2 separate regions of the Homo sapiens genome follow, and region 1 is linked to region 2. The links come from fine-mapping of genetic effects on gene expression. A gene starts in region 2. The other region holds a variant in brackets. All regions are shown on one strand. Distances are between the middles of the regions.

The links. PIP is the estimated chance that this variant, and not a neighbour inherited with it, causes the effect.
Region 1: its variant is the best candidate, but not a certain one, in a credible set for the expression of GS1-24F4.2 in pancreas (GTEx, PIP 0.53).

The regions. Positions count from the first base shown.
Region 1 is chr8:6,865,364-6,868,156 of GRCh38, reverse strand. No RefSeq gene overlaps it. Among named protein-coding and RNA genes, the nearest start is that of DEFB1, 11 kb to the left of the region's middle. The variant A/G (reference allele first, on the strand shown) is at 1,103.
Region 2 is chr8:6,833,790-6,836,808 of GRCh38, reverse strand. It overlaps GS1-24F4.2 (a long non-coding RNA gene), which reads right to left and starts at 1,255. Exons shown (of 3, transcript NR_045217.1): 1 at 1,192-1,255; 2 at 588-843. XKR5 (XK related 5) reads left to right here and starts at 1,285. Exons shown (of 7, transcript NM_207411.5): 1 at 1,285-1,373. The coding sequence starts at 1,316. RefSeq lists an enhancer at 2,035-2,903.

The sequences.
Region 1 (2,793 bases), 31 kb before region 2:
AAAGCCTTGGGAGAAATAGTTATTCCCCTGCCTTTATCTCTTCTGTTAGATCACGGACTGATGGTAATTTATGAACAAAAGCCACTTGAGGCTTTTTTATTATTAGTCCCAAATCTTGGAAGACAACAGGTTTTTAAAAGAAATTTAGTGAGCTGTCATGTGGGTGCCCCTTTGTTCTGTTCTGGACAGGCATGAAAGCTGATTCACTAACTTCTTATACCATTCACATTTTTGATCAAGGTTGTTTTATGCCACGAAAGCCTGAGAACCCACAAATATCAGCAGAAAAATACACGCTTGTCACAATCAGTCAAAATACAAAACAGTGCTATAACAAAAATTGCTCAAAATACTACTCTTCCAATCAAATCTACTATTGGCCTGTTTTTCCCAGTATACTTCTCCAATCTGAGTCGGCACATAAATTTTTTGTTTCATCATTGCACTCATCGGGTATATGGCATTTTGATTCCTGCTGTTTCTGTACACACAGTGCCCTGGTGGCTTCATCTCATCCACCGTGGTCCTCTTTAAGGACTGCACCATGCTGGGCCCAGCCTATTCACCAAGGGGGCAGCATGGAGTTCTCTCTTCTCTCTTAGTTGCATCCATCTGGCTTTAGCTTAAGGAGCTGCAGAACTCCCCCTCCTAAGGGAAAAAGGGGGTGCTTTAAGATCCATGGAGGGGTGTTTTTGAATGGCCTTAGTAGATGCTGTGCACAGAAGACACAGCCTCAGGAAAGGCTGCTGGGTTCTTCACATCCTTAAGGAACAGAAAGGGAAAAGTTTCCATTTAGAGCAGTCCTTGCCCAGAACATGTCAAACCTGAATGCTGAGATTCAACCCAATTTCTTCCAACCAGCCCAGACTGAACGGTGACTCAGAACTCAGAGTGACTCCGACAGTGCCTCATTCACCTAAAGGAAGACTCCTTTCTGAAAAATGAACAGCGTAGAATGTTTTAACCAAATGTGTGCAGACTAAAGACCCTGTTGCTGCCTAGTCAGGGTGCAGCCCTCCACATTCACTGGCATAGTCTCCAAGTGCAAGCACCCGCCATTCTTTACAAGTGAAACCTGATCTTCCCCCTCCGTGAACCACAC[A/G]GGGACTTGATTCGCTTGTTCCCTTGTTGACAGGCAAATACACTGGTGCCCACTGGGGATCACCCCGCTGGTCATCATCCACAAGACCTGGAAGAGGAGGAGGAGACTCCCATAGCAGGAGGGGTTACAGGCTCTTCTCTAGAGGAAAGCCACCTGGCTCTCGCTGGAGCTCACCCAGGTGCAGGAGGACCAGAGGTCCACCATGGGGCTGGGGACTGACCCCCCATCTCAGCCTCACCTTACTTGGTTCTCCCCTGCCTCCCTTGCTGCCCTGTTGTGGTGGGCCAGGTCTCACTAATGTAGGCCTCCCTTACAACTGTCCCAGCACTGACTGAGCAGCTACATTAAACATTAAAGCTAATTGAGCCAGTGCCCTTATACAAAGGCTGGAATGTAACAACGAGCCCACCAAAAGTTTTCTCTAGGCTTTTCGTGGGCCTTGGAGCATGACAAGATAATGAAGGGATTCTTAACAGGACCTTCAAGTTTAAACAAGTTTTACTGGGGGTCTGAATAAACCCCCCAGGCCTCCATAGACAAGTTTGTTGGGGTCTACAGAACTCCCCAAACCTTTATGATTCATCAGGAGACAAGATAAGGGTAATCACCCCACCACCTAGACCCATTTAGATTAAGTAAATTTACTGAGGATCCAGAAGAAAGTCTTCAGGATGGAGACCTTAGTTATAGATTAAAAGAAGTTAATCACTTATGTCTTTCGATGAGTGCACACTTACATGTAGACCTACAGTTTAGAAGGTATATAAGCTCTGGAAAACTGTGTAATTTTGAGTTGGTCTGGTTATCATTTCCAGGCCTTCTTCCTGTAACTGGTTACAGAAATAAAAACTCTCTTCCTCCCCAGTTCATTGGCCTCTCATTATTGGGCCACAAGAAATAGCAGCCTGACCCACAGTTTGGTCCAGGAACACTGTGACCTGGCAGACCCATTCCTTGAAGCATGTCCCACAGCCAGGTGACCTGGGCACACACCCAGGAAAAGCACTTTCTCCTAGGCTGGCCCCAGGAAGACGCACCCACACTGGCCCCCTCCCCAGCTGGCCAGGGGTCCTGCTGTGTGTTTGATTATTATTATTTTTGTTTTTTTCTGTTTTTGTTTTTTGAGATGGAGTCTTGCTCTGTCACCAGGCTGGAGTGCAGTGGCATGATCTCGGCTCACTGCAACCTCCTTCTCCCAGGTTCAAGCAATTCTCCTGCCTCAGCCTCCCAAGCAGCTGAAATCACATGCGTCTGTCATCACGCCCAGCTAATTTTTATATTTTTAGTAGAGACAGGGTTTCACCATGTTGGCCAGGATGGTCTCGATCTCTTGACCTTGTGATCCACCCTCCTCGGACTCCCAAAGTGCTGGGATTACAGGCGTGAGTCACTGTGCCCGGCCCGTGTTTGATTATTGTAACTGACATCAGACCAGACATGCAGAGAGGTGTCATCACTGCCCCCTCCCAGCTCCCTGGACTCATTCTACCTGTAGAGACCAGACACCTACGGAGGTAAGTAAAGAGTCTTGCTTAATTGGGTTTCTGATTTTGTTTTTGTTTCAGTTTTGTTTTGCTGTTTTCTAAAAACCAGGTTCACTGATAAACACGCGGGAACTGCCGAAATGATTGCTCCTGGGCTTAGTCAAGTCTGACCTGACTGGTCTTCTTCAGACAAGTCACAAAAACAGG
Region 2 (3,019 bases):
ACCGTGCTTCCTGTAAATCCTGAAGAACTGTGAGCCAATCAAACTTCTTTTCTGATAAATTACCCAGTCTCAGGTATTTCTTTATAGTCATACAAGAACAGCCTATTACAATATATGGGTATATACATGAATGACAAAGAATGTCTCCCTGATCAGACTCTGGACAGCCTCCTCCGAGCTCTCTGCACGACTGGGCCCAACCTGGGCATTCCTTCCTCTGTTCCTGCAGAGTCTAGTTTTAGCAAGAATCCTGCTAAGTCAGTTTAATCCCAATTCCCCACCTCAGGTGTCTGAATACCCTCCATATCTGACCAAATTCCAACACCTGCTCCACCCCACCCCCATCCCCGATGTGGATCAACTTGGCCCACCCTCAGCAGGAATCCTGTTAGGTCAGGGAAGCCAGAACCCCCACTTGATGTCCCCTTCTCAATGACTTTCCATCCACCGTCCCCCACACTGCTCCTTGGCTATAAATCCCCACTTTTCCTTATTATTTTCGGACCCCAATCTCTCTCCCCTGCTGCAAAACCTCAGTGCAGTCCCTTACATCTAAGGAAATGGTTCTGAATAAAAGTCTGTCTTACCGTTTTTAAAACGTCAGAATGTTTTCAGATACGTGTGTGTATATATCTCCATATCTGTAAATATATATAAATATAGATATAGATATCTCCGAAGAGAAGGTTTTCCAATGTGCACTTTTTCTTCTTGCACATTGCGATCTTAACCCTCAAGCACATCTGGAAAAAGCTTCCATGAGGATACAGCCTGGGATGGATTTGTGGGCGAGGTGTAGACCACGATACCGGGTAACGTGCCCTGTGTTTTCTGGACACAGAACTGTAAGATTTCAAAAAGACCCAATCAATGATTCTAACCCAACTCTACATATATTTACTCAAACACAGTATTCCTCCCTGACTAGTGGTTAACGGACTTGCTTTAGGCGGCCCCAGAGGCGGTGGCCAGTTTAGCCACCTCCCGAGGAACCTGCGCAGTCCCGACGCTCACCAAGCGCTTTCCTGGCGGTTACAGGGTTGGGGGCAGCGCAGAACCCGCTTCTGCCCTTATCAGGAGCCCGGACCTGAGCTGGACTCCACCACCTCGTCCCCACCCACCCTGGAAGCCAGAAACCCCAAGCATCCTCCCTCCCTCCCCTGCTGGCCACTACGAATAAACCAGACATACAATTCGCGCCTAACGGCTTAGCCAGAAATGCCACCCGCAGTCGGGCCCCGGGCCGGAAACCTCCCCGACGCGGGGCCGCGTGCAGGGGAAGGGGCGGGCGCAGGCTGCGGGGTCGGCACGGAAGATGCACGCGAGGCTCCTGGGGCTCTCGGCCCTGCTGCAGGCGGCCGAGCAGAGCGCGCGTGAGTGCGGCAGCCCGAGGCTGTGCTCACCCCTGCAGCCCCTAACCCCACCCCGGCGCCGGGAGCCGCACAGGCTGCCTATGCCCGGGCGGGCACTGCCCCAGCCTGCGCCCAGCACTGCGCGCCGGTGACGCACGGTGGTGGCCATCCCACCTGCAGAGCACGTCCTCCCGTCCTTAGTAGATGCCCACGCATGCACCATCCCCCCAAGGATGCATGATTTTCCTCCACCCATGCTCGGTTCCCCCCCCTCCCGACTGGTGCTTGACTTCCTCCCGCCCATGCACGATCCCCCCGCCCCACGCATGCAAGATCCCCTCGCAGAAGCAGGGGAGATGTATCCGCCCTTCCTTCCATCACAAGCTTTGCAAAGTGCTGCGATGCCAAGATGTGCTGAGCGCAAGTCTGGGGGCGCCCGGGCTCTCCCCCGACCCCCGGCCGTCCAGGGGGACCCTGCGACTTGGAGGCCGCTCGCAGAAGGGGTGGCGGGGGGAGGGGGACAGGGCTCCGCATCCACGCGGCCCTGTAGGACGGCGACTCCGCTTCGGGGTTTAGGACGGGGCGGGACGCGGCCCTTCGAGGCCACCTCCGTCGCAGGGGGAACCCAGAGCCCGCCAGCCGCGGCGGAGCAAGATGGCCCCATTTTTCGCGCCCTTCTGGTTTGAACGCGTAACTCCTTCAGTGCCGGGAGGAGCGTCTCCGCCCACTTCCGCCGGGCTCCCTGCGGAAGCTTTTTCCCGGGCAGAGTCCCTGGGGTGGAAGAGGGGGTACCCTGGGAACGCCGCCTTGGGACTTTTCCCTGAGTTCGCGGGCGTCCCCGCAGGTCCCGCTGCTTCCGAGGCGCGCCGAGCAGGACGCACACGGAGGACGCGCAAGCGCCCTGGCTCCGCGCCCCGGACTGGAAGGGCTGAGACAGGACCTGCGGGGGTCGGCACCCACCCCAGGTGTCCTCCCTTGCCCTCCAGCTGGGCACGGACTGGGTGTCAGCATTCCCCAGCCCTGCAGCACCGAAGGCTTTTCGTGCAAGGGAGGCTGCCGCAGGACGCTCGGGGTGGTGACAGCCGGACCCAGCCTGGGCGCTAAGGGCTGCCTGAGCCCGGACCCCGCGGTCTAGAGCTGCAGCGTCTGCAGCTGTACCTCAGGGCAGTTTTCCCAGTTTCCCTAAAATCCGCGGCTTGTGTTCATTCATCCACTTAGAACTTTACTATTGGAAAACCTAAGTAACAGTTGTGTGAAACGATGCCTGTGTGCGGTGCCTCTACCAGCGCACCGCCTCCAAGATCAGCCTCAGACAACCCTGAGGAGGCCGTGCTAGGAGTATTGGGGAGGCCCAGAGTTCCAGGCCAGGGAGTTCCCCATGTGAAAGTAGGAGAAAAGGGACCCCACAGAGAGAGCTGTGACCCCACAGGGACTAACGGTTTCGTAGTGCGGAGTTACTGACTGCGGAGTGCACATTCTCTCTCCACTGCGTAACCACCATCAAAAACAAACAAGCAAACAAACCAGAGAGGAGGTTTCATCGTTCTCGAGGATGCACAAGATGCTAGGCGCTTCACACATGTCGTATATTGCCCAACAGCTCTGGAAAGCCCTGACAATGTCATTTAGTGAATGCCTGTCCCTGTTGCCAGAGGCTCTGCTGGCTC